Homo sapiens: one gene and its partners. The protein of the gene in region 1 purifies or fractionates together with the protein of each later gene. This does not show direct contact. Each region holds a gene or a part of one and is shown on either strand. Other genes may lie near its edges. The genes, in order: EPB41L5, NAP1L1, VANGL1 and UBE2O.

Region 1 (2,583 bases):
TCTCAGCTTTGCCAACACCCATATGGTGCAGTATGACTCTGCCCAGCAGAAGTCCTGAAACCAACCCAGGTGGCACTGTTCCTCGCTGGATGGTGCAGTGCAAACCCAGAGAAGGCTGGGGACTGGTGGGCGCCAAGAGAAGGAGAAGTCAACACCTGCATACTCTACCACACGCTGTGACACACACTTCATGTGCCATTTCAGACAAAAAACCTGAGGTATTAAGCAGTAGAGCCCAGATCCGATGTCCAAAGCTGTGGTGATACTGCACCATGCTGTCCTTGGAATGACCACCGTGCCTTCCAGGATATGCTGGGGATGACCAATGAGGTTTTCAACCTTTGAAAATGCCCCTACTCCCAAATTTACACCACAAAAACATGGAAATCAACCTAAAAACAGTGCGGCTGCTTCTGCTCACTTCCTCAGGTTTGTACCAACAGTGGATCTGGTCTAACTCTGTTGAGGTCAGCATGTAGGAATCACAGTTCCAAGAAACAGAAACAGTGCACAAAAACATGAATGTCTCACGAAGGTTTATTTGAATAGAGTTACATCTAGAGTTCTCATTTCAGTGTACAAACAACTCAGTGCAGTGTTTCTAATACAAGTCATATAAAACTGGAACACACTAAATGAATAGTGCACTTGATAGAAAAATAAATTACACTTTAAATGCTACTGCAAAGTTTTACACATATAAAAGGTAAACACAAAATAGTTAGTGAGACCCTCATAACCACTTATCATATCCAGATAAGGAGATAAAAGGGGCAAAGGAATCTGTGCTATAAAAAAAAATCTCTCTGAAGAGGAGAAATCCTGACAAGTAACTGAATGATCATCTCAAGCAATGTGGTGACATAGGGACTTACAGATCGTATCTCTTAGAACTGGGAAGGAATCATAGCTCTACCAATGTGTTAACACAACCCAGTTCAGCTCAGGGCAAATTTCTATAATTCAAACAAATGTCCTCATACTAACGCCTAATATGTAGGAAAAGTTTCCAACTTTCTTCTGACCACTGAAGAGGTACAGTGTTTAAATTTTTGAGAGGATAAAAAGGACAAATAATCTAGAAATGTGTCTTCTTCAGTCTGCAGAAGACCCCAGGTCTCCAAGCAACCACATGGTCAAGGGCATGAATAATTAAAAGTTGGTGGGAACTCACAAAGACCCTCAGAGCTGAGACACCCACAACAGTGGGAGCTCACAAAGACCCTCAGAGCTGAGACACCCACAACAGTGGGAGCTCACAAAGACCCTCAGAGCTGAGACACCCACAACAGCACCTCGTTCAGCTGCCACATGTGTGAATAAGGATGCAATGTCCAGAAGTGTTGGCTGCCTCCAAGTGACAGGTAACACTGCAGAACCTATCTGAGGACCTGCCAGCCTCCCGTTTCACGCAGCCACTCTGCTGCTCTACAAAGTTTCACATCAGGGGTCAGCGGCTTTGTAAAGGGGACTCCGCAGGAACACAGCTGTGCTGGGGCTGCTGCTGCTGTACTGCGCCAGCAGAGCTGAGTGGGACAGTATTTACCATCTCTGGTCCTTTACAGAACAAGACTGCTGACTCCTCTCAATGACAAGACAAAAACTCTGCTTCTCGAGACTCTTACTTAGAAAAATAGCAGATTTTTCTCTCTGTGACTGATAAATAATTCTGCTAACAAGACTTCTGAAGGAAATCTTCATTTTGGGGCTTAGCTAAGAGAAGAAGAGGTGCAAGTTTTAGCCAGAAGTGAGAAGCATAAGATAACAAGTAGTCCAGATCCAAGAACCCAAGAACAACTCAGGGCTTTCATCCTTAAATCTCCATAGGATATCTGTGATTGTACAAAGGCAAAGGCTAGAGACAAATGTTAGGAGACTATAAGAAATATTTTTAAAAGTTTTTTCTTAAAACAATGTATAAATGTTAAGGAAGTAAGCACACAAGGAACAGAATCATTCCTCTGTTCAGCAGTGTCTCCTGAAGAGTAGGAATGAAATGACCATGACCTCCTGTGTGTCAAAAGATGATGCTACTGACATGTCACAAATTAGGTCTCACTGATTAATTTACAAGTTCTCAGGCAAAGTCTAGAGCAGGTAACTGAAACCTTCACGTCTTATTTTAAACCATCCTGTCAACTCCCACTTCCCCTATCAGGGCTATGAAATGGACTGAGTTGAGGTTCCTCTCCTGTCTGCCCGCAGGGAGGCAGCACTATCTGCTCCCCGCCACCCCACCGTGCTCCGTCCGAGGCGTGCACGGCAAACCCTCAGCAGTGCCCCCGGCTGCCCCTTCTCCAACCTCAGCCCAGTCTCACCAGCCTGCTTCTCACCCACTATCATCTCCAACCTTTCTCTTTGAACCCATCAAGGATGCCGGCACACATGCCTCTCTCTTCTCAAGAGACAGACATCTCCCCTTCCCTACCTGCCACATTCGTAGACCACCTCAGCCCTGCCTCTCCCCACCACACTGTTCTCAGGGGAGCAGAACAGGAAGAGCTGTTACAGCAGCTCTGCGCATGGCAGCAGCAGCAGCTATGACAGGAAACCAATCCCCAACACGCATTTAATCTGTCGGGG
Region 2 (7,040 bases), on another chromosome or scaffold:
GGCTTGCCATAGAAAATGGCTTCTATACCTTTGGTTACCAACTCTGCCTTTTACTTCCTGCATATTTGTATATATTTTTACTTATTCAGAAGTTTTGTACATTTTAATTTTTATTGGGAAACAGGGTTATATATATTTTTTCCTTGTGGAGACAGGCTCTTGCTGTGTTGCCCTGGCTGGTCTTAAATGCCTCACCTCAAGCGATTTTGCCTTGGCCTCCCAAAGTGCTGAGTGTATGGGTGTGAGCCACCACACCTGTCTAGAGTTATAATTTCAGTCTTGGAATTATTTTCTAAAGAGGGTACAGAAGAGCATAACAGGGATAAATAATGTAATAGGCAACACTGATTGATTATTCAGGCATTGTTTTAAATTCTGTGTGTATTATTAGCTCATTTAATTTACTTAGAGACAGGTAGCATCAACATTTTAACAAGGAAAAAAAATAGGTGTGGAGTGGTTAGATAACCCGTCCGTGGTTACGTACGTGAGCAGTGATAACTTATGATGAGATAATTTTTATCCTGGTTTTGAAAGAATGTTGACTTACACTGTTCTGCTATAAATCAGCATGAATATTAGTTCATTTTCTGTTGCTTAGAATACCTGAAACTGAGTAATTTATTTAAAAAAAAAGAATTTATTTCTTGCAGTTATAGAGGCTGAGAAATCCAAGATCGAGGGGACCCATGTGGTGAGAACCTTACTTGTGGAGACTCTGAAGGTTCCCAAGGCAGTACAGGGTATCACATGGGGAGGGGGCTGAGTGTGCTAACTGGGTAGCTTGGCTCTCCAGCTCCCCTGGTGGGAAACTGGGTAATTTATAAAGAAATACATTAATCCATGAATGGATTAATTCGTTTGTGAGGGTGGAGCCCTCATGATCCAATCACTTCTTAAAGACCCCCATCTCTCAGTGCTGCCACATAGGGGATTAAATTTCAACTTGAGTTTTAGAGGGGACAAATACTCAAACCATAGCAGCATGAAATTCAAAAGCACTCCACCTTGTATCCCACTGTGCTCTAGGGAAAAGCTGTATAGCAGTTATGGTCATGAAGTCTTCTTCCAGCATAGAATTTGTTTACATACACAGTCATGCATGGTTAATGATGGGGATGTGTTCTGGGGGAAATGCATCATTAAGCCATTTCATCCTTTTGTGAATGTCATAGAATGTATTTACACAAACCTAGATGGTACGGCCTAGTACATACCTGGGTTATATGGTATAGCCTGTTTGTTGTTCCTAGGCTACAAACCTGTATAGCATGTTGCTATGTTGAATACTGTAGGCAGTTTTAACTTTTTTAAAAATAAGTTGGAGTGTACTCTAACCACAAAAAGCATAGTATAGTAAATACATAAACCAATAAATCATTTATTGTCCTTATCAAGTATTATGTACTGTAAATAATTGTAAGTGCCATACTTTTATATGACTCTGCAGTAGGTTTGTTTATACCAGCATCACCACAAACATGAATAATGAATTGAGCTGTGACATTACTAGGCAATAGGAATGTTTCAGCTCCATTATAATCTTGTGGGATCACTGTTGTATATGCAGTCCTGTGTTGACTGAAACGTTATGTGACTGCAGTTGGGTAATGGTTTCTTAGCCTTATGTCAGCTCTATGTATCCAATTAGTTCAGTCAGTTGCCTCCCCTCTTCAGTGGAAGATTTTGTTTTTAGTTCAGTTTAGGAAGGAAGATTTCCTTTCAGGAGGCCAGGTGTGGTGGCTCACACCTGTAATCAATCACAGCACTTTGTGAGGCCAAGGCGGGAGCCCAGAATTTCCAGACCAGTCTAGGCGACATAGTGAGACACCCTGTCTTTACAAAAAAAATTAAAACAATATAGCTGAGTGTGGTGGAGAATGCATACCTGTAGTCCCAGCTACTCAGGAGGCTGAGGTGAGAGGATCACTTGAGCCTGTGAGGTCAAGGCTGCAGTGAGCTGTGATCACGCCACTGCACTATAGCCTGGGCAATAGAGCAAAGCCTTGTCTCCAAAAAAAAAAAAAAAATGCCTTCAAGCATGTTTTTAGGGTCAGTTATGTCTTTTGAGATCTTATACACACCATATATGTATGAACCTTTTATTATAAAGTGACCTTTTTATCTTAATGTTTTTCCTTGAAGTCTATTTTTTCCTGACATTAATACGTGATACCAACTCTGATTAGTGTTTTATTCTGAAACTGTCTTTTACATTACAGATTTTTTTTTAAGGAGGTATGTTGAAGTGCAGTGGCACGATCATAGCTCACTGTAACCTCAAACTCCTGGGTTCAAGTGATCTTCCTGCCTCAGTCTCCCGAGTAGCTAGGACTACAGCAGGCATGTTAATTTTTTGTAGAGATGATCTGTGTTGCCCAGGCTGGCCTTGAACTCCTGGCCTCAAGCGATCCTCCTGCCCCAGCCTTCCAAAGTGCTGAGACTATAGACGTGAGCTACCGCACATGGCCTCACCTTCATTCTTAAAAGATGTTTTGGTTGGGGATAGTATTTTAAGAGCCTTAGTTATTTTCAACATATTGAGGATTCTGTTGTCTTTTAGTGTCTTATTGAAGAGAAGACAGCTGTCAGTCTTTTTGTGCCTTTGAAGTTAATCTACCTTTTTTGTGTGTGCTTTTGAGATGAATTTGTTTTTGCTATCTTGCCTTTTTACTGATGTATCCGGAGCTGGATAAATATATGTGTGTGTGTGTGTGTGTATATATATATATGGATTCTTTATTTTATGGTTTTGATTTGTAGGGCTACTTGAATCTGTGGATTGGTGTCTTTCATCACTTAAGGAAATGGAAAATTATTGCGTATTAACTTCTTCAAATATTCTGTCCTCCTGCTCCCAGAACTTGTATGAAGTCTTTATTAGGCTTCATTGGATCTTAACATGTCTTTTCATTTCAGTATTTTCAGTCCTTTAGATTCTGTGGCTCTGCCATATTTTCAAAGTTTTCTTCTAGGCTTCATTTCAGCTCACTTAATTCTCTCTTCAGCTGTGTATCTTACTCTTAAGCCAGCCCATTTAGTTTGATTCATTAGTTTTATTTCTAGAAGTTCTAGTTTTCCAAATTTTGTTATATCACCTTTAATAGATGACTTCCTTGCAGACAGTGTGTTTTCAAACTTAGATCAAAGACAACCAGGCTTACTATGTCTGTAGGTATGTATTTGTTTATAGTCTGACAATTTTTAAGTCTTTGTGTAGGATTGATTTCTGTTATATTTTCTGTTTTTCCTGTTGGCTGTGAAAATTACTTGTATGAATTTTTTAAGGTCTAGAAGGAAGCTTTCATTTAATTTTGATATACAGGTGTCTGAATATACCAGGGACAGATCATTTTAAGTACATAGCTTGGGGTTTGGAGGGCAATACAGATGAGGTAAATTTGGGCTGTTTGTCCAGGAGAATGAATTTATTCTTGAGGATATAGCATTTTGGGGTTCCTGCTTAATTTGGGAGGGTTACCATAAAGATAGCCACCGTGGACAGGCCCAGAATTTTAACTTTGGTTAAAACCAAAGTTCACGTTGCTGATAATTGGCAGTTGACCTCAGTGCAAAAGTGCCTTCCTTCTGCTCCTGTTTTGCCCTCAGTTTTGGGCTGGTGATTCCTTACTATCTTGTTAGCATTTCAGTGCTTTTAAGATTTTTAACAAAATGTTTTTGTTAAAAAACATCTGTACTTTTAATTCTTTTCCTTTTTTTTTTTTTTTTTTTTTGAGACAGGGTCTTGCTCTTACCCAAGCTGGAGTGCAGCGGTGTGATCTCGGCTCACTGCAGCCTCCTCCTCTGGGTTCAAGCAATTCTCCTGCCTCAGCCTCCTGAGTAGCTGGGACTACAGGTGTGTGCAACCACGCCCGGCTAATTTTTTGTATTTTAGTAGAGACTGGGTTTCACCATTTTGCCCAGGCTGGTCTCTAACTCCTAAGCTCAGGCAATTCGCCTGCCTTGGACTTTCAAAGTGCTAGGATTACAGGCGTGAGCCACTGCGTCCGGCCATATTTTTCATTGGTAGAATTGATCTGCATAATCTAGTTTGTCGCTTTCAGGAATGAAAGTTTTTCACAGAGATCTTGGAATGCAATTTAATGTATAACAAATAAGATTCTCACTGATTTTATTTAATGTCAACTGCAGTAAAATATTAATACAGGTATTAACCTAAACTTGTGTTTCTCAATGTGGTCTACCTGAGAACCACCTCTCAGAAGCTGAGTTTCTTGTTTAGAATGCAGATTTTTGGGTCCCACTTCCTCAGATGTTTTTCTGCTTTATATAGATGATGAAATAGAGCCAGAAGTTGTTTGTCTTAGTTTGTAGATTGCTACAAAGTTGATGTCAGCCCAAATGATCTGACTACAACTGACTAGAAAATTAGGTCTATCTTACAACCAAGAAATACAATGTAGCCAGAATGGGCAGGTTAGAGCAGCCTTCTCTGGAGGAGTAAATGCCTCCTGTTAATGTTCTGTAAATGTTCTGTCTTGGATCCTCTTTACTAAAGTTTCATTTTAAGAATTTAAACTGTAAATGTAATGCTGCAAATGGACATTGAGGTTAGCAGTGTAGCCATTCTGTGAACACATTAAAATGTTACAAAAATTTAAATTTGGAAGTTTTAGGTTTTGTTTCTGTTTTTGACAATTGCTGGGTTTAGTAGACACTATATATTAAACCTAGCAAATCTCAGAATAAATTTGTGTATTGGAAATTATTATATAAATCTGTGTGTTGGAAAACCAAATGCAGTCATGCACCACATAAATACTTAGCCATTATATTAAAGTTGCCTATGGTATTCAATACAGTCACATGCTGTATAGGTGTGTAGCCTGGGAGCAATAGTCTATATCATAGCCTAGGTGCGTAGTAGGCTATACCATCTAGGTTTGTGTAAGTATACTCTGATGTTTGAACAACAATACAATCACCCAGAGACACATTTCTCAGAACATATAATCCACACATGACTGTAATGGTGAATGGGAAATTAGTTCTCATTACCCCCAGTCCCTTCTTTCTCATTAGGTTACTCTGGTTAGGTTTTTGGTGTTTGTTTTCAGAAAGGGTTTATTTGTATTAAAGTATGTGCGTATATGAGTGGAGATATATATATATATATATATATATATATATATATATATATATATTTCCATATCCAAAGGGGATTTCGGCATACATCCTATACCTTGCTTTAGTGTTCCTTCATATCAACTCAGATCTGTTTCATTTGTGACTGCAAAGCATTCCATTTTTGCATATTCCATTATAGTACTAAGTTTATAATAAGCTTTGTGTGCTACCCCAAAGAAGACAACGCTATGATTGTCAAGATCAGATTTAATTCCTGTAATCATGAATTTTGTCAGTTGGGAGAGACAGACCATAGGTCAAACTAATTTATAATTACAGACTGAGACATCTTATGGTGGAAAGAAAAGAAAGCTTTATAGGAGTGTGTGTACAACCAAGAAATCTTACTTAACCGGAATGTGCAGGTTGGAGAAAGCATCTCTGGGGAGTGAAACTTTGAAATGAGAGCCAAAGGATGTGCAGGACTTGTTCAGAGCTGTGGAAGAACCTTCTAGGTGAACATGGAAAGCAAAGGCATTAGATTCTTTATAATTTTTTCATGGTAGAGCTCATAAGTGAATAAATCTGGAGATGGACATATTTTGTTTTTTTAATTTTTATGTTTTTAAGAGACAGTGTCTCATTGTGTTGCCAAGGCTTGTCTTGAACTCCTGGCCTCAAGCGGTCCTTCTGCTTCGGCCTCCCAAAGTGCTGGGATTGCAGGTGTGAGCCATGGTGCCTGGCTGAGATGGACATGTTTAAGGCTTTTGATATTCCTATTGTCAGGTTGCTCTCCAGAAAAGATACGGGAACACTAGCTGGAAATAAGGATGCATGTGCACTACAGGTTTCCCTGTATTAAAAAGAAGTTATTGATGATGTGGTAGACAAACTGGAATCCTACTTGGATTTCTTTGATGTCAGAGTTCAGTATTTTTCTTATTTTTGATTAATATTCATAATTGCTAAACACTTTGTAAATGCTGACTCATTACCCAGCATCACTAGAAAAATTCATCAGTACTATTAGGAATTATTTATAACAAATACAAAATATTTACAGAGTTAGATACATTAGGAAGAATAATTTTCTTTATAATTACTCTAAAGGATAGATACTAGGTCAGTAATAATGTTTCCCCCAAATATTAGCACTTAACTGCTAAAATCAGGATGTTTTCCATTTTTAACTCTTTGTTCATAGGCATAATACGTTGCTATGAAAGTAAACACATGCAGGATTTTGTGAATTAAATATGTATTAAGATTTTAATTTTTACCAGATAACTTGATTCTATTTATTCATAATTTTTTTAGAGACAGGGTCTTGCTGTATTTCCCAGGCAGGCCTTGAACTCCTGTGCTCAAAAGATCTTCCTGTCTCTTGGGCAGCTGGGATTACAGGCTCTTGGGCAGCTGGGATTACAGGCTCGTGCCACTGTGCCTGGCTAAGATAAACTTGATTTTAACATGGATTCTATCTAAACTTGGTTTAGTTTTTTTTGGTAATCTGTAGATTACCTGTGGCATTCTACCATTTTTTTCTGCCTGGATATAACACATCTGCTTTAAGATTTGTTTTTCCAAAAGCAGTATTCTCCAGGTTCATACTAATCTTTTAGTGAGAAGGAACTTAGGATATCCTCTGGTGAGTCTTAACAGTAAACTTACTCAGGTCTGGTAACCACAAGTCTTGACAATGTCCCTAGCATATCTAGGGGAAGCTGGAGGTTGGTGGTTGTCAGTTATCTAACATGAGGTACATGTACATTTGGAGAGATAGGGAAGGCTTACCTAACATTAAGATTGGGACCTAGAGCTTTTGAAATAGTCTAAATGGCTATTTGATCCAGGGATTAAGTCTTTTAAAAAGATATCCAGAGGGCATAGTGAGTACAGTAGGCATCAGATTTTGGTTTTCTTAAACATGAATTACATAAAATGAATATTGC
Region 3 (7,040 bases), on another chromosome or scaffold:
CCCAGAATCATTCATTTATAAGCTGTTGTAATAAAAGAATCATTGGGTTTGTCACAAATGCCATAAGCCCAGCAGATCCTCACATCAGTGACCTGCATGATGTTTGGTGGTTTATAGGCCACAAGTTCAAAATGTTTTATAGATTTGCCCTGCATCTCTGCCCGCTCCTTTCCAGCCCATGCCCCTCCAAATAAACCCACTAAAACACACACGGTTTCCTCTGGTCTCTCTGACATTTGCTTCCAACCTGGGGATGGTAAATAGAGGCCTGTAAGAAACAGAATAGAAATCACTTGTTACTCAGCTATAGCTAATAGTAGCAGTTAAAGGTGGTAGCAGAGACCAGAAAAATGTGTATAAGTTCAGTGAAAATGATACAGAAGTTATATGCCATACAACCCCTTCAGTTCTTCCTAACTGAAGGAATTTTACTCTAGTGAATACTAGTAGTAGTTGACAGCTGTGAGTGCCTACCACGTGCTAGGCACTGTTCTAATAATTTTTATGAATTATCTCATTTAATACCTACCACAGATCTATAATATAAGTAAAATAAAATCTGTTGTTACAGTTAGGGAAACTGAGGCAGAGAGCAGTTAAGTAACTTGTTCTGAGGTCACACAGCTAAGTACTAGAGCCAGGATTTGAATGCTCTTCACCCACAATTTGGGCTCATTGCTACTCTCTAGAAGAATAGTTGACTCTAAACAAAATTATTTCAATTGTCACTTTCCCCTTGAGTGCCATTTAATTAAGAATGGGTACCCCTAAGAAGAATGTTAGCTTCAAGACATAATATAAATAATAATTAATAGCATAATCTCTGCAGAATTCTATGTAAAAATCAAATATTCAGAATAATATACACAGCATATATAAGCATGGTTGTACCAGACACCACTTTTCCTTGGAAATAGATCTACTTACTGCATAGGAAGCAAAATCTCTCTTTAAATTCAGTGCGTGTCTCTGTAACCCTTACAAAGTAACTTTCCAAACCAGAGCTCCCTTAATTACTTAATAGCTCTAGGCAGAGCTGTTGATGTTTTTATAATTTCCTTTTTGCGAAGGTTAGCTTATGTTTACCACTGTCATTATCATAACATATTATTTCCTTCATACGATTTGCTAAACACTGTGTTTTCATATTAAGTAGTAGGATTTTTATATGAGTGAACATGACTTTAGGAGAGAATTCTGTTTGAGGCTGATTATCTTCATTTTGCTTTTGATAAAGGGTGGTGAAGGAGGTTCTTTCTGACATTTTTGCCTAGGAAGTCCAGAATTTAGGACACTGCCACTTAGAAGCACTCTGTGCACCTATCTCCCATTGTTGACCTTGCCTGCATGCAATGTGGTTCAATGAGCCTGGCCGTGTCCTAATATTTGCCTCCAGCCCCTACCCAAGCAGTGCCAAGCAATACACTCTTAAGGGGTGGGTGACCGGTGAGGCAAGATGCTCTTGGGCAGTGGCTGAAAGAGGCTGCTGCTGATTTTTACTCAGTGTGTCTGGCATACGAACTCTGCCCCTGAGTGGGACTGCCATGCGAGCCAGTAGTATAGCTTTTTTTTTTTTTTTTTTGATAGTTCTGGTATCACGCCTCTATCTAATATCTGCATCTTTTTTTTTGCCACCTCTAAAACTAAGGATTTAAAATAGATAATTTCTAAAGTTTCTTCCACAATGAATCTATGGCCTCATGTCCTAAGATCTGCCACAAAACCCTTCATTCAGCAGACATTTATAGGGTACCCATAATGTCCTAGGAGCTGGAAAGACAGGCAGTCATGAAAGTGCCTCTGCCCTCATGGAGCTTACAGCCTGTGAAGAAACTAGACAATAAGTGATCACACAAACAAATGTATCACTGGAAGTTGGATAGAAAGGAAGAGTACAGGGTACTAGAGAAGAGCCTGACTGAGATTGAAGGATCAGGAAAGGCCTCTTGAAAGGAGCAGTATTTAAATTAAGGAGTGATGAGTAGGAATTTGGCAAAACAGGGCATGTAAAGGGTGAGTACCAACAGATATACTGGGCTCTGCCAAAGCCCTAAGACTCTACCTTAAAGGAGCTGGGGCTAGAGAAGGAGGAGGGAGCTAGAGCGTCGGGCAGGACATTGCATACCAAATGAAAGATTTTTGTATTTTATTTAAAGTGCAGTGGGACACCACGGAAAGGTTTTAAACAGGGAAGTGACGTCTGCATTGTAATTTAAAAGGTCACTCTGGCTGCTGCCCAGCCTGGGCCAAACACAATATGAGTCATGTCAGGGGTCAGTATGATAGACAGTTCCAGGTTCTAGGAGCCATATTCCCACCTTTATATGACTGTCCTATTCATGCTGCTGTGACAGCCTATCAGTGTATTACCCTGGGAACCTGATTCCTTTTCATTGCTTTATTGTCTTTTCTGATAAGGGATTCCTTCTGACCTTATCATGAGTTTGGTTAATTTCTTGTGTATGCAAGGGAACTATCTCATAGATATATCATTGCAGTGGTAAGCTTCAGGATATCCTTTTCCATTAAGTCTGTTGAAGTTCTTACCTTGGCTCAGACTCTTTTAAAATAAGTTCACTTCGGATTTTATTAGTTTGCCTCTTATTGCATCCTCTTAGTCCTCACTCAGATCTTGGATAGGATAAGAGTTGGTAACTATTAGAAACGGTATGACTTAGAAGGGGCCTGAGCTGTGTATAGGCTGGTGAGGACACCTGGAGGCTTTGTAGTGGTCTAGCCCTGTGTAGGTGGAGCCTGGAGGAAGTGGGTGGCTGTGAATCAGTAGAGTGAAGGGAGGATCAGAGAGGGTGTTGAAGGTGGCACAGGGTTAGATCCTTAGGATGAGGGTATTGCTTTAGCTGAGGAATTGGGAAGAACAGGACAGGATACTGGAGAGCACCTATGAGAGGGATGATGGTATTCCCAAGGGGAGCAAGAGGAATCTCAGTAGGAAATGTGCACTTGGGATTTAGTCTTTCAGTAAGTATTTGTTGGGTACCTGCTATGTTCAAAATATCCTGGGTGGAGGTAAGACGTAGTTGCTGTGTTCAAGGAGCTTCTGCCATAGGAAATCTGTGGATGGAGAAGACTGAGAAGAGTTTTGAATGTCAAGGGATAACGTGATGAGGGGAGAGGAGAGGGAGTGTTAGAGGAGAAGTAGTAACATAAGCGGCATCAAATTGGAGGCTAGCCAGCTGCAGAGAAACTCTGCTAGGGCAGGCAGCATGCCTTTGTCATTGCTGTGCCCTAGCATTGCCTAGCATGGTCTTGTAGGTGCCACTTAATATGGAGGTGGATGGACTAATAAATGAAATAAAAAGCACTGGGGGAGGAGGACAAGGATGTTACTTGGCTCATAGCAATCCTTGGCCAACTTTGAGTTGTTTCAGTGGAGTGTTGTGGATGGAGATTTGGACTGAAAGTGGAGAAGGAGGGAGTGACAGCATGTATAGACCACTCCTTTGGTAAGTACAGGAAGGAACCATGGGAGGGAAACCAGACTAGGGTGGTTGGTAGAGTTAGATAAAGCCTTTCCCTGGAGGGCAGTTGGGACCCATGGTTTCCTTTGAGGGACAAGCCTGGAGTTGTCTTAATGAATGGCCACAAGTTTTCAATGAGGACAAGGAATGAAGTCCTCTGGCAGAGGGGGAAGGGAATAAAACTTGGGTTACCATGTGCCAGAGACTTTACCTTTGCAGTTTCATTTAATCCTCACAAGAACCCTGGGAAGAGAGAGTATTAAATGACCTCATTTTTATGGGGCAGGGTTGGATAAGCTCAGAGAGGCAAACATTTGCCCCCTGATGTCACAGCTAGGAAGCACCAAGCTGGATCTGCCCACATCTGCGGGGCCTGGGCCACCTGCCTCTGAGACACTCCAGCAGCATTTAGCAAAAAGTAGCTGGAAGTTGGGATGGAATGGGGAATCCAGAGTTATGGGTTGCAAGGCAGAGTGTAGGAGTTGTGAAGGGTTAATTATGAATCTAGAAGAGAGTGGGAAATCGGTGTTCTGGGCCAGGGAACTGGACATTTGAATCTGCAGATCAGCAGAGGCTGGGTGAGGGGCTTTCAGGGAGGATCTCAGTTCACTCAGGGCTGGAGATCTTCGAAGCACATCCTAATGTTGACGTCTGCCTGTTATGAAGCAGGTGAGAAAACAGCAAAGCCCAGGGCAGAAAGGAAGTGAGACTGAGGTGTTGAAAGCTGATTGAAATTGCTAGTGAAAATGGTGGAGACAGTAGGCAGAAAAAAAGATGACTCAGCCCTTGAAGTCTTCTAGGAAAGTAGGGTAAGTCCAGGAGCAAAACTTAGCATTTAAAAAAGGCCTGCTGTGTTTTCACATTTAATCTTTACAGCTACCTCCCCCCACAAACCCCCACCATAATAGGCTGCCTTGCTTCCTTTTTATGGATTGGGAAGTCTCTGAGGCTCCAAGGAGAAACTGCTTTGCCCAGGTGTACAGCTAGTTAGTAGGCAGCGGACTGAGATGTGTGCTCCGTTCTGTCTGACTGCAGGTGAGCCTTGTGGCAGGAAGGCCGGCACAGAGACTCTGCTCTGCTTCTTTCCAAGCATTTCTCTCATTAAAAAGACAGAGGAACAAGCATTTCGGAACCCGCAAAGAGAGTGCTGATAGACAGTGACTTTCGTTTACCTAGCACATCTGGAGCTCGCGCTGGGTGCCTTCATAGTTGTTAGCTCATTTGGTCTTCACGGCAACCCTGATATTTGCATTTTACAGTTACATGTTCAAAGAGGTTTACTAATTTTGACTGGGGCCTGATAGCTAATAAGTGAGTAAAACCCGAGATTGGAACCCACCTTTGGAAACTGTGTCTGCTTATATTTTCAGATCTACCTGTGAGGTCGGTGGCTGGTTGGTTTACCCTGTTTAACAGATGAGGAAACTGAGGCATAAGAAAGCAAGTGGCTTATCCCAGGTTGTACTAAACAGTGGCTGGGCTCAGACTAGAACTCAGGTTTCCCCAGGGCTAGCCTTGGGCTCCTGATGGCAGAGGAGAAGTGAAATGGTAAGTCAGGGCATCAGGGACAAAGGAGGCTGGCCCTGGGTGGCAGACCTTGGAAGTGATCGTACCTGACTCCCAGGAAGAATGAATGGTAAGGGTAAATACACCCTAACTGGGATTAGAGGCTGTGGGGGCTGTATTGGTGGTGTATGGCAATTTGTGCTGACCTGATTCCCTCCAGACTTATGTGTTGTTGCTGGGGTCAGGGAAACTTGGCCTCCTCCCAGGAGGGTTAGGGTATGGCATTTACAGCTCCTTTGTTTTTTCTTCACACTTATCTCACTGGCTGTGTTTGCAGTTTCAGCTTCCAGCGGCTGGAAGAAGGAACCCTGTTGAGCTGAGACTAGCTCTGGGGTGAGGGGTGCAGAAAGAGACAGAACTTGTGGATCTCGGTTTTCTAGAAGTAAAAATTTTAGCATGTGGGAGCTCAGGAATGTACTTGGAAATGTTTCCAATTTATTTTTATTGCAAAGCAATATCTAATGAAAATGTGGGAGAAGACCCAGGAGCCTGCAAATAATAAATTGCCTGCTTTCATTTTCTGTGTCTCCTTTTAAAAATCTTTGTCCTTACATAAGCAATTTTATACAATTGTAACTGTAATGTTGGTTCACTGTGTATCAACAATACTGTATCCTGCTTTTAAAATTCATCATTATAAGAGTTTCTATTCTTTATAATGATCATTTTAAACATATGTGATACTTTTCTGGTGGATGAACCATGTTTTCCTTACCTATTCCTGTATTCTGGGGGCATTCAGATTGTTTCTAGCATTTTATTATTTATAGACAATGAGACCACAATAATTTTTCTTTAAAAAAGAAATCAGTTCCCTCAGATAAATTCCCAGAAATTCGGATCCTAGATCAAAAAGATTGAAGATCTTTTTTTTTTTTAATTGACTTTTGGAAATTATGACCAAATCCCTTAAAAGCAACTTCGCTGGGTATTGTTTTTTTAACCAGCAAACTGGCAGTGGGGGGCTGGGCATTGTGTGGAGGGTCGCAGATGTGGAAAGCCACCTCCTAAAGCCAGTGAGCAGGGGTCAGGTCATCCTGAGGACGTGGACAAGTGCCTCCCATTTTCCTGCTGCTGTGGTAGGGGTTCAGCTTGCTCAGCGCCTATCCTGTCTCCCTCCCAGACACCTGGGAAAACTGGTTGCTGCATGGGTGGAGCATTTACAGTTCAGTTGCTTCACCCTCACTCGCTTGTTCCATGATAGAGACCCCAGAGAGGAGGTGTGGCTTTGTCATTTATCTTTCAGCCCCATTAAGGTTGGCTCTGAAGATTAATGTCTTTTTTTTTCCCCCTCTTTCCCAGAATTTGTTCCTGTTGAAGAGTGGCTCCTCTTCTAATTTCCAGACTCCTTGAGGTTTTAGGAGTCTGGTAGGTGAAATTTTCTACCTCTAAGGAGAAACAGTACCTGCTCCTTCCTCAAGCGCAAGCCCTCCATTGCTATGGATACCGAATCCACTTATTCTGGATATTCTTACTATTCAAGTCATTCGAAAAAATCTCACAGACAAGGGTATGTAAGTTGTTCATTATTACACTTTTCCTTTTGGGGAAACCTACAGGTTGGTGGGGTTCTCTACACTCACTTTTCAGTGACTCAGCGCTGGACATTTGGTCGGTTGGTGCATGAGAAGCTGAGCTTTAAGAGCATTTAACATTCTTGGGAGTAACTACGTCACCAGTTTACATTTTATAGCCACCATTAGAGTTGATGACTTTAGTTTCTCACAATTGGTTTTAAATTAAAGTTTCTTCCTGCAGTGGAAATGTTTTTCATTTCTAGGTATTTCTTTTTTTTTTTTTGAGACGGAGTCTCGTTCTGTCACCCAGGCTGGAATGCAGTGGTGCCATCTCGGCTCACTGCAAGCTCCGCCTTGTGGGTTCACGCCACTCTCCTGCCTCAGCCTCCCGAGTAGCTGAGACTACAGGCGCCCACCACCACGCCTGGCTAATTTTTGTATTTTTAGTAGAGACGGGGTTTCACCTTGTTGGCCAGGA
Region 4 (7,040 bases), on another chromosome or scaffold:
GGAGAGGAGGACATTTGGAAGTAACTGTTCAGTGGAGTGGCTCACAGATGGGAGGGTATGGGCTTATTTGGAGAAAGCCAGTGCCCAGTATGGGTGGGGTATAGGAAGTTAGGAAGGAAAGTCACAAGAGCCTCCCAAGTCATCCTAAGTCCTTCCACATGCCGTTGTCTTGGGTTCTAATTCCCAGTGGAAGGGAGTGTAGCCACCATGTTACCATCCCCCAGCCCCTTGTCGCTCCCACTCTGCTCCCAGCACCATCAGGTCTTTGGAGAAATGTAACTCCTTGTCATAGAAAGGTCAGAAGAGCCCCTGGAGGCAGCATCCTGGTGAGGTGGAGCTGCTGTTGTCTGGAGACCCCACGGGAAGAATGGCATTTGCTGCCAGCCTCCCTCTCCTGGGAGCACTGGGCACTGCCTGCCCTGCCAGCCTCTGGCCTTGCCATGATGCCAGCTTTCACCAGCTGTTTTTTTCTGCTTCAGCCTCAGAGTTGACACCTCGGTTTCCCCTGCACTCCCAAGGGTGCTGTTAGGCTGAACAGGGTGTTTCATCAGTGACGGCACTGATTTAGGTCTGTGTCTGCGTTCTTCTCTCCTCCTTTCCTGGCTGCTCTCTCAGGGACCCCCAAGTGGTGGAGGCAGCCCTCCTGCCACACATGGTGCAGCCCCCCTTGCATTGGATTCTCCTGTCCTGCCGCTTCTGGCTTCTCTGGGAGCAATTGTGGCTTTTTGAAGTCTAAAATGGGAGCAGGGGATTAAGATAGGGTGGGGCAGCACAAAAAAATGCCGTATCTCAGAGTGGAGATTTGGGCACAGAGGGTTACAGGCACAGAATATTCTTTGATTTAGAAAAGTGGCACCGTCACGCCAGCATGCCTCTCCAGCCTCCTGGGGTCTTGGAGCAGAGATAAGGAGAGCCTGACCTTTCAGGGGTCTTCACCCTGCAGCTCACAGGGCCAGTGATCACAGCTGCCGACCTTGCTGAGCACCTACTCTGTACCGTGCACCATGTGCCACCTGCGGTCCGCTGCCTTGGTGACTCCACCTCAGCCATGCTGAGACAGCTGCCATCATCTCTCCTTCCACATGTCGGCAGGAGTGGTTTGCCTGACGTTCCTGTGTCTGACTCAAGAACCCTGCGTTTAAGGACTGGGCAAGTTGTCATTTGAAACAGGCTCATACCTGGATGCAGTGGCTCACGCCTGTAATCCCAGCACTTTGGGAGGCTGAGGTGGGCAGATCACGAGGTCAGGAGTTCGAGACCAGCCTGGCCAACATGGTGAAGCCCCATCTCTACTAAAAATACAAAAATTAGCCGGGCGTGGTGGCACGTGCCTGCAGTCCCACCTACTCGGGAGGCTGAGACGGGAGAATTGCTTGAACCTGGGAGGCGAAGGTTGCAGCGAGCCGAGACTGCGCCATTGCACTCCAGTTTGGGCAACACAGCGAGACTCCATCTCAAAAAAAAAAAAAAAAAAAAAAAAACAACTTGGGCTCATGAGTTCCCATGGGACTCTCTGCACTGCTGGTTGGTGGTGGGGTTCATTGCTTTTCTTTCCTTTTTTTTTTTGTGAGTCACGTTCTTCTACTAGCAGAGTTTGTTTTAGTTGTCATTGCCAGCATTTAAGTGACCTTGAGCCAGTATCTTCCTTTTTCGGCGACTCAGTTCTCCTTTCTTGGTGGTGACCTCTCAGTGCCCCCAGGTCAAGAGAGGCCACCACGGAGGAGTGTCTGGTTGGCTATTTGAGGAAACAGCTCTCCAGCCATGTGGTTTGGGGTCTCGGAGGTGGACACACACAGAGACCCATCCATGATTATGACCCAGTGAAGAACCATAGAGGAGCTGCCCCAGGTTTGAGGAACCAGCTAAAAAAGACGCAGGCTGGCCTGGTGGGAGCATCACGTGCCTGGGCTTTTGGGCGATGGAGCAGCAGGAGGCAGTGGCCGCTGCCAGCTGTGCGTAAAGAGACAATCAGGTGCTCGTGCAGTTGGCCGGGCTCCAAGAGCCAACCATCCTGAGGGTTACTTAGCAGCCTGCAGGGCTCCAAGCGCAGCAGATAAGGTGCAGGCCGCAGCTGGTCAGGAGGATAACCCAGATTAGAACATGGTGTCCGGTGATAGCCAGGCTTCAGGGTGACCCACCGCAGCCCAGTGTCCTGCTTCTCCCCCAGCCCACTCTCCCTCAGCACTGATCAGCTAGGGCAGGCACTTGCAGAGGGCAGAAAAAAGATTGAACGCAAAGCAAATGTTTTGCTCTCTGTAGAATGGGCTGTTAAATCCTTCATTAAAGTGCAGCCTTATGTGATCTGTCATTGAGCTGCACTGTTCAGTGTGAGGAAGGCTACCTCCGGCAAGCCAAGTGCCTCTGGTGGGTGAGACAGTGACCACAGGGGCCCCAGGAGGCCTGTGGGCGTGACGCGCTCTGCCTGTGGGTCTGGGTGCTGGTCGGAGGTGTGTGCGGTCTGTGAAGATACTGCTAGCCAAACGCTTAGGATTTGTGCACTTAGCAGTGTGGATGTGACGCTTTCCTTCAGAAGCTGGAAGAAAACTGTATTCTGTGGTGGCTTCAGAGTCCATTCTCTCACACCTGTATTTTCTTTTACAGCTGAAACTAGAGGACCGTTCTGTGGTGCCCCGAGATGTGGTCCGGCACATGCGATCCACCGTGAGTCCTGCGTCCCCACCCCAGCCCCGGGCCTGGGGGCAGCCACCTTAGGGACTTGAGCCTGCCCACCTCGCACTCTGCATGTGGGAGAACTGGCCAGCTCTGCAGGGGGTGCGCTGGGGTTGCCTGGGCTGGGTCTCCCCTGGTGACCAGGGCTGCTGCACCACGGGACTTGCATGTCTCCTCCCTCCCCCAGGACAGTCAGTGTGGCACGGTGATCGACGTCAACATCGACTGTGCCGTCAAGCTCATCGGCACCAACTGCATCATCTATCCCGTCAACAGCAAGGACCTGCAGCACATCTGGGTGAGCCGGCCCTGTCTTCTCATCATCCTTTCTGGGCCCTCTGGTTCTCTCGGCGGCACGACCTCTGGGCTACAGCCTCCTCCGTGCTCTTGCCAAGCACAGCCTTCCTGGGTCAGAAGGCGGAGCACAGCAGCCAGCTGGCTCCTGTAGCCTTGTTTTCGCTGCTTTCAAGTAAGCCATTTAGACATGAGGTCAGGACGTGCCCTTCCCCAACCCCAGCATAGGCTGCCAGTGTGGTTATCTTTAAGTGTTTTTCCTTTCTCCTCTAACATTTCTTTAAAAAAATAAATTATTGGAAATAGTTTATTTTTTTAATGATTTCAAACTTACCAAAAGTTGTAAATTCCTGTGTCCCTCCATCCAGGTTCCTCAGCTGTTAAGATTTCACTTCGTTTGCTCCATCACCTTCCCTCCCTCCTTTTCCCCGAGATCCCCCTCCGGTCTTTTTTCTTCCCAAAACATTTGACAGCAAGCTATAGATGTGATGCCCTGTCACCCACCCCGGAATACACACACCTCTTGTGTGTTTTCCAAAAATGAGGACAGCCTCCTGTGCAACCACCATATAACCCCCAGATTGGGAAATCAACGTTGATAATTACTGTCCAGTCCACAGACCACATGCAGTTGTCCCAACACTACTCTTTTCTTCTTTGCGGATCCAGGACCCAATTCAGGAACACATCTTGCATTGAGTTGTCATCTCTTCATTTTCTCTCCAATCTGGAATCGCTTCCCAGCCTTTCTTTGTCTTCCATGCCCTGAACAGTGATACATTCAGTAATTTGACCCTCAGCCTGGGTCTTCCTGGTGTTGCCTCATGCCCACGTGTTCTTGGCAGGCCCGCCGCAGAGCTCTGCCCTGGTTCATGGTACCCCATAGCCAAAGTGCTGGGGTTGTTCACTTTTACCCCTGGTCATGTTGGTGTCCACCAGGTCTCTCCACCATAAACTCACCATTTACCCCCTTTAAGTGATTGTATTTTGTGGGAACGTAGTCCCAGATTATGTCTATAACCTGTCATTTGTCAAACTGAAATCCACCAGCTTTGGCCTCCATTCACAGTTCCCCCTGCGCCAGCCATTGCTCTGATGTTGCTAAATGGTGGTTCTATGACTCCCTTGTTCCCCTCATTTCTTTTAGCTGGCATTCTGCTCTGTAGAAGAGCTTTATCTTCTGCCCTATTTATGTATTCTTTTTTTTTATCAGTATGGACTTAGAGATTTCTGTTTTATTCATTGGTTATAATTAATTACTACTATTATCTGTTCTGTTGCTTGGATGGTCCCAGATTTAGCCAGTGGGAACCCCTTCAAGCTGGCTTTCATGTCCTTCTCACATGGCCCTTTTTGTTGGTTTTTTAAGAACTTTCTTTCTTTCTGGCATGAGATGTGCCAGGCTCATCTTGTACTTTTTGTGATCCAGCCCCAGAATCAACCATTTCTCCAAGAAGCCTCATTGTTTTCAGAGAATGGTATTTTTAAAACCCAAGATCTGGATGCTAGGTGTGCTAATTGCTACTTGGCTCTTTTGGGACACACTAGGAAATACATATGTATTATATGTATACACACATCTAAATATGTCACTACCTGCTCTATGTGTATATTAAAATATATGAGTTCAGGCAGAGTTCACGGGCGCAGTGGCTCACCCCTGTAATCCCAACACTTTGAGAGGCTGAGGCAGATGGATCACTTGAGCTCAAGAGTTTAAGACCAGCTTGGGCAACATGGCGAAACCCCATCTCAACCAAAATATATGAAAAAATTGGCCAGGCACGGTGATGCATGCCTGTAGTCCCAGCTACTCAGAAGACTGAGGTGGGAGAGTCGCTTGAGCCCAAAGATGGAGGTTGCATTAAGCCAAGATCACACCATTGCACTCCAGCCTGGGCAATAGAGCAAGACCCTGTCTCTAAAAAAAATAATAATAAAGTAAAATAAAATATATGAGTTCATCCTGATAGATCCACTTCCACCTAAACACCTCAGACTCCTCTTCCTTCTTCTCCTTCCTGCTCCCTTTCTGTTAGTAAACACCTGGGCACCTTCTCCAACAATGAGGGACTTGGCTCTCGATATCCTTGATGTGTTAACGTATTTACTCAGAGCACTGTCCATGTAGCCACCCCCCAGTGGTGTGGCTGCCTCCTCTGCCTGCCACCTCCACAGCCTACTTTGCCAGGTGTCCTGTGTCCATGGATGTCCCATGTCCATGGATGCCATCAGGCCTCTCTGCCCCTGCATCACCCACCCCGTTCCCTCCAGGCAGCCCCACCACCACCACCACTTCCTCCTCACTGGGAAGAGCAGCTGGGATGCAGCCTAGAACTTGTAGGGAGGGCCTGCTGCAGCAGCTGTTTAGGGCTAGTAGCCAACCGGTCCAGTCAGTGAGCTGTCTAGATCCTCCCCCATCCTGTCTTCGGTGGGGCATAGAGGAATCTGTGCCCTGGACATGAACGTTGTCTGCTGTGTCTCACTGCCCCTGCCTCCTTGGTCTGCAGCCCTTCATGTATGGGGACTACATTGCCTATGACTGCTGGCTGGGGAAGGTCTACGACTTGAAGAACCAGATCATCCTGAAGCTATCCAACGGCGCCAGGTAGAGTCTCACCACCAGAGAGCCATCGGCTTGGGAAGGATAGCCTCTTGGAAAGAGGGGAGGAGGAGGGTGTTTCCTCCTGGGGACAGTGATGACAGGTTTGATCAAGGGCAGTGACAGATGTTGCAGGCATCCAGGGCCTAACCCTGTACCGTTCTCCTTATCTGCCGTGGCCTATTTCTGTTGCTCAGTTTCTGATCTGTCCTGGCATGGGGAGAAACGTTTTCACTGAGGATATCTGCTAGAGGCTGATGCTTTACTTGAGGCACTGTGATGGTGCTGAGCAAGCACTCCAGTGGCACTTGGGGTCTTGTTCGTTGTGGGAGAGTTTCTTGTACTACCTCGGGCTGAGTTGATGGTAGAAGACGAATTGTGCTATTTAGGGCATGTGGGCGCATTGGCATCTCAGAATCGCAACTTTTTGGTACTCACTGTGTCCCCTGGTGGAGACCAAACCTCTGTTCTCTGTTTTAGGTGCTCCATGAACACGGAAGATGGCGCCAAGCTCTACGACGTCTGCCCGCACGTCAGCGACTCGGTAGTGTGCTCCATCCAGGCCAGCACCCTTCTCTGATTGCTCAGTCCTCTGGAAGGAGGACTTCGTAGCAAAGACCTGGACCCAGCTAAACAGAGCGGTTTCCTAGAAAAGGGGCGGGTGCGCGCCAGAGGGTCTAAAAGTTTGGGTATAGGCAGAAAGTATTAGAACTTTTTTTTTTTTTTTTTTTTTTGAGACAGAGTCTCACTGTCGCCCAGGCTGGAGTGCAACGGTGCGATCTCGGCTCACTGCAACCTCCACCTCCCGGGTTCAAGTGATTCTTTGGCCTCAGCCTCCCGAGTAGCTGGGATTACAGGCGTGTGCCACCACACCCGTCTAATTTTTGTATTTTTAGTGGAGATGAGGTTTCACCATGTTGGCCAGGCTGGTCTCGAACTCTTGACCTCGGGTGATCTGCCCACAGCCTCCCAAAGTGCTGGGATTACAGGCGTGAGCCACCGCGCCCGGCAGTATTAGAACTTTTATTTGCATTTTTGGTAGCTTTTTTTTCTCATCCTTTAAGGTTCCACTTTGTCTCTCTCAGTACAGGATGATGTGTTAGTTACAATAGTACATGGACACACACAGCAAACAAGTAGATATACAGGGGGTGCGTGAGCAAACAGGTTTCAGGACCACTGCTCTCTGGAGTCTTATTCCTCAGAGTATGAGCCCTTGACCAAGGAGCATGGAATGCATCACCTATGTTTGAACAAGGGCGCCAGATGACCTCTGCGGACCCAGGGTTTGGGAAGTGCTGATGTGGAGCCACAGGACTTGTTTTAGGGCGTGTGGGGCGTGTGTGTGAGTGGGCTTCTGCAGGTGGGCAGCCAGCGGGCACAGGCGTGGAGAGCATGGTCACCCATGGAGACACCGCTCACGGGGACTTTCCTTTGGCCCCACATCCCGCAGGGTCTCTTCTTCGATGATTCC

The links.
Region 2: the proteins of EPB41L5 (region 1) and NAP1L1 purify together in Homo sapiens (affinity purification with mass spectrometry; 3 studies listed by BioGRID and IntAct, with this or other methods). This does not show direct contact.
Region 3: the proteins of EPB41L5 (region 1) and VANGL1 purify together in Homo sapiens (co-immunoprecipitation; 3 studies listed by BioGRID and IntAct, with this or other methods). This does not show direct contact.
Region 4: the proteins of EPB41L5 (region 1) and UBE2O purify together in Homo sapiens (affinity purification with mass spectrometry; 4 studies listed by BioGRID and IntAct, with this or other methods). This does not show direct contact.

What each region holds. Positions count from the first base shown.
Region 1 is NC_000002.12:120,177,056-120,179,638, reverse strand, and holds the end of EPB41L5 (band 4.1-like protein 5), read right to left. Parts: 3' UTR 520-2,583; downstream 1-519. UniProt on the Homo sapiens protein: Plays a role in the formation and organization of tight junctions during the establishment of polarity in epithelial cells.
Region 2 is NC_000012.12:76,074,675-76,081,714, reverse strand, and holds part of NAP1L1 (nucleosome assembly protein 1-like 1), read left to right. Parts: intron 1-7,040. UniProt on the Homo sapiens protein: Histone chaperone that plays a role in the nuclear import of H2A-H2B and nucleosome assembly.
Region 3 is NC_000001.11:115,644,930-115,651,969, forward strand, and holds part of VANGL1 (vang-like protein 1), read left to right. Parts: intron 1-6,347; 5' UTR 6,348-6,484; coding exon 6,485-6,555; intron 6,556-7,040.
Region 4 is NC_000017.11:76,401,134-76,408,173, reverse strand, and holds part of UBE2O ((E3-independent) E2 ubiquitin-conjugating enzyme), read left to right. Parts: intron 1-2,601; coding exon 2,602-2,661; intron 2,662-2,857; coding exon 2,858-2,968; intron 2,969-5,474; coding exon 5,475-5,572; intron 5,573-6,046; coding exon 6,047-6,110; intron 6,111-7,019; coding exon 7,020-7,040. UniProt on the Homo sapiens protein: E2/E3 hybrid ubiquitin-protein ligase that displays both E2 and E3 ligase activities and mediates monoubiquitination of target proteins. Negatively regulates TRAF6-mediated NF-kappa-B activation independently of its E2 activity.